Homo sapiens: one gene and its partner. The protein of the gene in region 2 interacts with the protein of the main gene of each other region in a pairwise test. Each region holds a gene or a part of one and is shown on either strand. Other genes may lie near its edges.

Region 1 (5,524 bases), on a different chromosome or scaffold from region 2:
ACACTTGGGTTGTTTCCAGGTTTTGTTTTTTTTTTTTTTGCAATTATAAAGAGAGCTAGTATAATCATTCACATACAGGTTTTTGTGTGAACACAGCTTGCATATCTCTGGGTTGAACACACAGGAGAGGGACTCCTGGGCATAAGGTGAGTGCACATACAAGTCTATAAGAAAGCACCCACCTGTTTCCACAGTGGCATGTTCCCTCCAGCAATGCATGACTTTCAGCTGTTCCTCATCCTCGATGACAGTTGGTATTACTATCAGATTTTTTTTTTATTGTAGTCATTTTTCAATGGGTGTAAGTGATATCTCACTGTGGCTTTAATGTGCATTTCCCTGATGGCTATGCTGAACATCTTTTCATGTGTGTATTTGATATCTGTATATCCACTTTGGTAAAGTGTCTGTTCAAGTATTTTGCCCATTTTCAATTGGCTTGTTTTCTTCCTGTTGAGTTTTGAGATTTCTCTGTATATTCAGAACACACACTGGATATGTTCTTTGCAATATTTTCTCCTAATCTTAGCTTGTCTTTTTTATTCTCTTAGCATCATCCTTTTGCAGAGCAGTCATTTTTAGTTTTGATGAAATTCAATTTATCAACATTTTCTGCTATGGATCACGCTTTTAGAGTAAAAAGTCTTTGCCCAAGTCCAGGTGATGAAGATTTTCTATGATTTTTTCAAGGAGGTTTATAGTTTTACATTTCACACACTTAGATCTATGATCAATTTTAAGTTCAGCTGTGTATGAGATGTGAGGTTGAGGTGTTGTTTTTTAGATATGGATGACAACTATTCCAGTAACATTTGCTGAAAAGACTGTCTTTTCTCCATTAAATTGATTTTTGTACCTTTGTTAAAAAAAACCCATTGACCATATTTGTAGAAATCTCTCGTCTCCATTCCATTGACTTACGTGTCTGTCCCTTCACCACATTGTCCTGATTACTGTAGCTTCAAAATCAAGTAGTATAGTTCCTCCAACTTTACCCTTCTTTTAAAAAATTCTATCAGCTACTCTAGTTCTCTTAGTCCATTTTTGTGTTGCCAAAAAGGAATATCTGAGGCTGGGTAATTTATAAAGAAATGAGGTTTATTTGGCTCATGGTTCTGCTGGTTGGGAAAGTTCAGGATTGGGCATCCAGTGAGGGCTTCAGGCTATTTCCCCTCACGGTGGAAAGCAAAGGGGAGCTGGCACGTGCAGAGACCACAGGGTGGGAGCAGAGGCAAGTGGGCGTGCCAGGCTCTTTTTCACAACCAGCTCTTGTTGGGACCTGAAAGAGCTAGAACTCACTTATCTACCCACGAGGAAGGGCATTCATCTATTCATGAGGGATCCACACCCATGACCCAAACACCTCCCACTAGGCCCCACCTCCCAACACCACCACACTGAGGATCAAATTTCAACATGAGATTTGGTGGGGACAAACCATAGCACTAGTTCCTTTACATTCCATATACATTTCATAATGAGCTTATCTATAAGAACAAATCCTGCTTGGATTCTAATTGGAATTTTATTAAGTCTACAGATCAATTTAAAAAGAACATACGTCTTTACTAGGTTGAGCCTTCTTATCTCTCCATTTATTTAGGTTTTCTGGGGTTTCTTTCATTATCATCTCATCATTTTCAGCATCCAGATCACATTTTGTTAGATTTCTAAGCCTTTCATATTTTTGAAGCTACTGTGATATTCTTTAATTTCTAATTGTACATTGCTAAGATATAAAAATGACTTCTGTATGATGACCTTGCACTCTGTGATCTTGTTAAACTCACTTACTAGTTTTAGGAAATTTTCTCATAGACTCCTTAGGATTTTCTGTAGGTTTTTTTGTAGATGTCCTATGTCATGTTAAATTTCCTTCCCTTTCTAGTTTGCTGAGAATTTTATCATGAACTGATGTTGAATTTTGTCAATTTTTTTCTGTATTGATATAATCATGATTTTTCTTCTTCAGACTGTTAATATGGTAGATTACACTGATTGATTTTCAAATATTGAACCAGCCTTGCATTCCAAGGATAGTTTCTTTTTTTGTTATGGTGTATTATTATTCCTTTTATATCCTGCTGGTTTAAATTTGCTAATGTTTTCTTGAGGATTTTTACATTTATGTTCATGAGGGTTATTGGTCTGTAGGTTTCATATTTTGTGTTAACATTGGTTTTGGTATTAGGGCAATGCTTACCTCATATAATGAGTGAGGAAGTGTTCCCTCTTCTTTTCTGAAAGTTGTTTAGAACTGGAGTTTTTTCTTCATTAAATGTGTTGATAGAATTCACCAGTGAAATCATTTAGGGTAGAGATTTACCTTTCAGAAGGTTTTTAAACTATTAATTCAATATCTTTACTAGTTATTGGACCATTCAGGTTATCTATTTCATGTTAGATGAACTGTGGTAATTTGCAGTTTTCAAAAGAATTGGTCCATTTCATGGACCTTCTTTGCTTCTCACTCTATGTATGTACACTCTATGTACATACATAGAGGGAGAAGAAAGAAAATGATAACTCAAGACTGTTTCAGGAATACAGTTGTTTCTTGGTGTCTATGGGGAACTTGTTCCAGGACCCCCGTGGATATTCAAATCCTTGGATGCTAAAGTCCCCCATATAAAATAACGTGGTTTTTACATACAGGCTACACACATCCTCCGACAGACTTTAAATCATCTCTAGATTACTTCTACCTAATACAATGTCAGTGTTATGTAAGTAGCTGCTATACTGTATTGGTGTGTTATTTGTATTGATGTTTATTGTTGTATTGTTATTTTTATTTTCTGATATTTTCAATACATGTAGGTTGTATCTACAGATGTGGAGCCCACAGATACTTGACCGTACTTCAAATTCTTGTCTTCTTCACCAGTCGATTGCTACTATGTCTTTGTTCCAGAGTCCTCAAATAGTTTCTCCCTGTCTACTCTCCAGGATTTATAGCTGCATTCAGTGGGAGACATGAAAGGAGTATGCCTTCTCCATCTTATCTGGAACTGAAGCTAGGTTACCACTATGTCTAATTTTTAAACACAAAATTGGAATCATACTGTACATACTCTGTACTTTTTTTAAAAACTAGCAACATGTCACCAACTTTTTCCAAAGACTGTTAAAAATCTTTCTAAAACATAATTTTTAATGATCATATGTATTGCTACAATTCTGTTGTTTCCAATTTTCTCCCCATTTTAAACGGTGCTGCCATGAACATTTTTTAACATAAATTTCTGTACAAATTTGATTATTTCCTTAGGATAATTTCATCAAAAAAATTTGGTGCCTGGTCTCTGGGTCCAGCTGCTGGGAAGGAGGACACTGCAGTCTCAGCACCCACCAGCTCCTCCTCCTTCCTCCTCCCCCGAGGTGAATGTGCCCTCAGAAGTGCAAGCTGCTGATTAACTATGCTGCATTTTTTATGACGTGAAAGTTCGGAAATGCTCCACGCCAAAAAAAAAAAAAAACAAGAAAAGAAAAAAGGCTGTCATTTTTTGTCCCAGTGCAGACAAAGTGCATTGTTGTAGAAGGAGGTGAAGAGACCTTGGTTGGAGATGTCTAAGTGTAGCCATAAGCGGTCCTTCAAGCATGTGGTGGCAATGTTTCCTGAAAAAGATGTCTCTGTACTTTGTATGAGGCAAGCTTTAAAACCAAGGAATCCAGAAGAGTTGATGGTTTTGTGTGTGTGCGTGTGGGCACCAGAACTAGCACCTCTGAAAAGTAAAATGATCTACATGAGCTCCAGGGAATGCAACCAAAAAGAAATATCAAGGCATAAAACATGAACATCAAGCAAAGGGGCCAGAAGTCCTCCCTTAGGCCTGTCCCACTGGGAAGCCAGGCGGCCTTGGTTGTGGCCTCTGCAGGGTGCCCTGTGTAGATCGTCCTTCAGTGCCACAAACTGAAAGTGCCCGTGTTTACGCTTATCCTCTTGTTGTGTAAATAAAGCAAATACATTTAGGCCAGAGTCTTGCTGAGGGGGAGCTGTCCCATCATCTACACCACACATTCTATAAATATGTGCAAACAGCCTTAAATACATCCGAAGTCTGAAGTGTTATTGGTATGAAATTAAATTCTTACTGGCCACGTGCCTGTTTTCATGAGCTGACTTATAAAGACTTTCGTTAAGCTCAGGATTTGTGATAATACAGTCAATAAAACAGTACAAGGCTGTGTGAAGAGAATTATTACATCTTTGTTAACCTCAGCAGTTACTTTGTTTCTTTTGCTTAGAAAATTCGTCATAATGTGGTTGTAATTTTGGTCCAAATTCTTTATTCTTCCTTGAGCTAAAGAGAATAACGGAATATAATATGTCCTCATCACATATTGACAGCACGAATACACTAACAACAGTAAGACTGAGTCTGGCAGTCTTTTAATTCTACCAAATGTGCAATGGAGATCCTCAGTGACCTTGCAAAGCGTCCTGAAAGGTCCAGGAGGCAGCCCCTGCACCTGCAGTGCCACTGGCTAGTGGGAGACTGCTGAGTGTGCAACCTGCTTCTCGGAAATCGTGGCGTGGCCTCAGGAGAACAAGCAAGATCCTGTAACAACTAATGATAACGCAAATTAGGGCTCAATTGTCACCTGCTTTGTTAACAAAAATGATTAAATGGTCTGTTGACAATCTAGGACACCTGTGGTATCTTTACTTGCGTCTCCTTCAGAACTTTGCTGCTTCTGGAAAAACAAAAAAATTTTAATGCTCTTTGACTTATTCTGCCCTATTTTCCTTCAAAAGGCTTTACCAATTTACACTGCCAAAAAAAGGGCATGGCGGTGCACACTTCCCCACAACCTCAGCATCGGGAGCATCAGATATTAGAGGATTGCTCAGCCAACTTCCCAGGTCAAAACTATTACAGTTACTTTCAAATTGTTGGTGGCATTGAACAACGTTCAAGCTCCTGGCCTCTGGCATTTCTCTGCCTTTCTAGTCCCTGCTCACCTTCCATGAGGTTACCTTTATCTTATGCTTTTCTTATTGCAACTCTTTACGTCACACAATTCTTTAGCTGCAATTCTTTAGTTGCATTTACCATTTAATAGTTTTTAGCTGTGCTAATGTATGAAGGGGAATTTTTTGTCAAGTATTTTATTTGACAGCTTCATTATGAACTTGGTTCTTAGAAAAACCTTTCCCATCCTAACAACAAATAAACTTGTAGCAATTTTTTTGTTTCCTCCTTTTCTTAAATATTTAACTCTTGAGCCCATCTGAGGTTTATTTTAGCAGATGGTGTGAAGAAGGGCCTCTTTTCTCCAAATCAGTCGTTCCAGCACCATCTCTGAACAACTACATGCCCTTGCTGCACTGACTGAAAGCTGCCCCTCCTATGCTAAACGCACATGCACTCTTCTCTGTCTTCAGACTTTTACTACATGTCAGCGTCAGAGTAGGAAGATGGGCCAGGAGAGATGAAGGCCTGAGGGCTGAGGGGCTCTGAGAACAGGCAGACAGCAGGCAAGGAGGACATGAAGAGGGACAGACGCACAGGTGCAGGGG
Region 2 (3,400 bases):
GGAAGAGCTGATGAGGTGAGATGGACAGAGTCTCCTTCCACTCTCAGAGGACCCAGCAGGATCATGGTAGGTTCTTGACACAGGGAATGGACCAGCTATATTCAAGGCCTTAGGGAGAAGGAGCCTTCTTTTGGTCCCCAGTTTTTACATCCTGTGTCTTCTCACAGATTAGTAACGGTCTGGAGAAAGGCAGCCAAAATTTGGTGTGTCTCTAATCTCTACAAAATGAGTAGCTGTCACTCACACAGAATCCTGCCTGTTTCCTGGATGGAGATCACATAGGAAATTTGGGGCCTATGTCCAAAGAAGTTTCAATCACCTTGAGTTCCTTGCTTCTTCCTGCAGCCACCTAACACAGTGCTTCCAGCCCTAGCGACTGGATCAAGCTTCAGGAGCCCAGAATTCGCCAACTTATTCCATCTGAAACACGGCAATAAGTGCAACATTTACAACCTGTTCATGACACCCTGTAATGGTATTAAAAGCACAAGATGCAAGTGGAAATTCTACACAGGGAGCATTTATTTATTTGTATTTCCAGTACATCAATTTTTAGAGAAAGCATTAGATATACACTTTTAATGAAATGAGGAAAAATTAATTGACAGTTTGACTAGATGAATTTTCATAAGTAAAAAGAAAACACCCAACTAATAAGCCTGTGATTTAAAGGTGAGATGCTACTTGGTACAAATTAGGATTGAATGTGTAGATATGGACATAAAGAGTGGAATAACCGACATTGGAGACTCCAGAAAGTGGGAGGCTGAGAAAAGGTTTAGGGATGAAAAATTACCTACTGGGCACAATGTATGCTTCTCTGGGTGTTAGGTACACTAAAAGCCCACATTTTACCACTATGCAATATACCCATGTAACAAAACTGCACTTGTACCCCCTAAATCTATTTTATTTTTTGAGATGGAATTTCGCTCTTGTTGCCCAGGATGGAGTGCAATGGCGCCATCTCGGCTCCCTGCAACCTCTGCCTCCCGCGTTCAAGTGATTCTCCTGCCTCAGCCTCCCAAGTAGCAGGGATTACAGGCACCCACTACCACGCCTGGCTAATGTTTTGTATTTTTAGTAGAGACAGGGTTTCACCATGTTGGCCAGGCTGGTCTCGAAGTCTTGACCTCGTGATCCACCCGCCTCGGCCTCCCAAAGTGCTGGGATTACAGGCGTGAGCCACCGCGCCCAGCCCTAAATCTATTTTTAAAAAAACAAATTTGTACTGAAGATTCTCCTTTTGAATGTGCATTAATTTTTCCTGATCATCTCTTGAAAAACTTCTGAGACAGCTAAGCTTGTTTCATATATTAGGTTAGCAATGGGGAAAGAATACAGTGATTTGAATTGAACTAAAGCGTACTCAGAGAAGTGCTCCCAGCAGAGTAGGTGCTACTTCTGCCAGTCTCTCCATCTTACCCTTCCATGAGGCTTATGTACAGAATGCCTATTTACTGCTGACCTTCTCCAGTATGGCAGTGCCATTCCTATGTGCTAAGAATGTATACACCGGGCATATCTTGATCCAAGTTTTAATAACCATACGTTCTGATCCTATAAATTACACATTATTCATTCTAAAATTTCGTAGAGATCTAGGAGTGCTCTGTGTCCTAAAATGTATCAGTGTTTCCAAACTGGGGGTGCAGAATCTTTAGGGGCACACAACCTGTCTCTTCCACTGTTGCTCTTCTCTTTCCTTATTGTTACAACTGTTTCCCCCCCTCTAACATGTCCTTATTCTCATGTTTAGATATCCTTTGCCCTCCCCTTCCATCCTTGTTAGTTTATCTTCTGGGAGAAATTTTAAAACTCTCAATACTTGTTATTATTGGTAATGATAAATAGGGAAAACCTGTCACACCTTCTGAAGTTGTGGAATGACAGAGAGGCAACCCTTTGTAAATCCACAGGTGCCACTAAAAAGTGTTTGTTTTGGTTCTTTTTGTTACATATGATTGCAGCAAAGGCTTTGATATATTTTTCAGTCTACAACTAAATTACTTGACCTCTCTGGATCTGTTACCTCTTCCATAAAAGGAGGCAGGTCTATCACTAACATCATATTAATTGGCTGACTGATTGATTCAATAAATATTTATTCTACTGATCCAAGTACTCTTAAGCTACTTCAGGTAAAAAAAAAAACCAATGATCTACATATTTGGATCGCTGAGAACCATAGTAATGACCTGTGAATGAAAATGTCTTTTAAAAAATATCCAATTAATAAAGCTCTACAAACAATACCATTATTCTTGCCTGTGGATTGCTATTCTCTAAGTGTTCACAACCACCACTGATTTTCCACTTAAGATGTTCTTTCCTTGGTTGCTTGCAAAACAAAATGGTTCACAAGAATGACCTATGAAAAGTCATTACAGAAGCAGAATGAGCATAACAATAGAATGCCTTTGTGTGGCCCTGTGCTCCTACATGCACTGTTTTGTTTCTTCCTCATATTTTCACAATCCTCTGAGAAGGTGCCATCTCCCCAACTTTACAACTAAGAAAACTCAATATTCTCTTAACATACGTGGATTAGAGTAACTTCCTTTTCTCAATTAGTTCCCATAACTCATAATACATATCTCAACTGTGTTACCACAATTAGGAATTATATTAAAATTGAATCAAATGTGAAAACATTCTGTCCTCTCATTTTAAATATTTTATGCATGCTGCCTTTGCAAAGCATATGCTATGGAAAGAACTGGTATTAAGAAAAGATTAGTTCTTTATATATAGTGGTTTAAACTTCTAATTTTAAATCTCAGTTAAAATGATTAAAATATGAGTGAATTTACTTTTGATTTCCACAGTTTTAACCTGGCATGCATGGGCTTGACTGTGAACATGGTAAAGCAGCTGCATGAACATCATTTAGGACACCACTCCTGCTGTTTCCTTTAAAAGGCTGACAGGGTCCTAAGTTTCTCCAGCAAAGGGGTGTCTGTGTGTATGTGCATCTACTGTACGTAGGTTACTGTAAATCTATCTGAATTAGGGCAGTTGCCCTGCTGGCCAAAATTAACTCAGGAAACTATTTTAAATAGATAAGTTCTAGGACAGCTGTGTGACATGATTAGAAACATTATGGCTTAAGATTAACTATAATTGTATTAACTATTAGAGTCAAAAACTAAGGACTTATAACAACCCTTTGCTGTGATACATTTCTTACAAATTTCTGAAACATTAGATTCTCTCATTTAAATATGTTTAACTCTTTAATTTTCCATCTAGTGCCTATTAATGTATCTAAAAGATACACAAAACTATTGTACTAAAGAGACATGTCATTAAAAAACAATTTGGCTACTAAATTTTGTTCAAGAACTTTACTCACTACTGGTTAGGAAAAAAGCTTATCATTCACTATCCTACACAAATA

Evidence for each region. Proteins that work in one complex are often made in the same cells at the same time.
Region 1: the proteins of MYO6 (region 2) and PRMT2 interact in a two-hybrid assay, tested with the Homo sapiens proteins (one large-scale study listed by BioGRID and IntAct).

The regions. Positions count from the first base shown.
Region 1 is NC_000021.9:46,651,892-46,657,415, reverse strand, and holds part of PRMT2 (protein arginine N-methyltransferase 2), read right to left. Parts: coding exon of another isoform or gene 5,410-5,524; exon of another isoform or gene 4,572-5,409; coding exon of another isoform or gene 4,362-4,571; exon of another isoform or gene 2,319-4,361; intron 1-2,318. UniProt on the Homo sapiens protein: Arginine methyltransferase that methylates the guanidino nitrogens of arginyl residues in proteins such as STAT3, FBL, histone H4. Acts as a coactivator (with NCOA2) of the androgen receptor (AR)-mediated transactivation.
Region 2 is NC_000006.12:75,916,638-75,920,037, reverse strand, and holds the end of MYO6 (unconventional myosin-VI), read right to left. Parts: 3' UTR 501-3,400; downstream 1-500. UniProt on the Homo sapiens protein: Myosins are actin-based motor molecules with ATPase activity. Unconventional myosins serve in intracellular movements. Myosin 6 is a reverse-direction motor protein that moves towards the minus-end of actin filaments.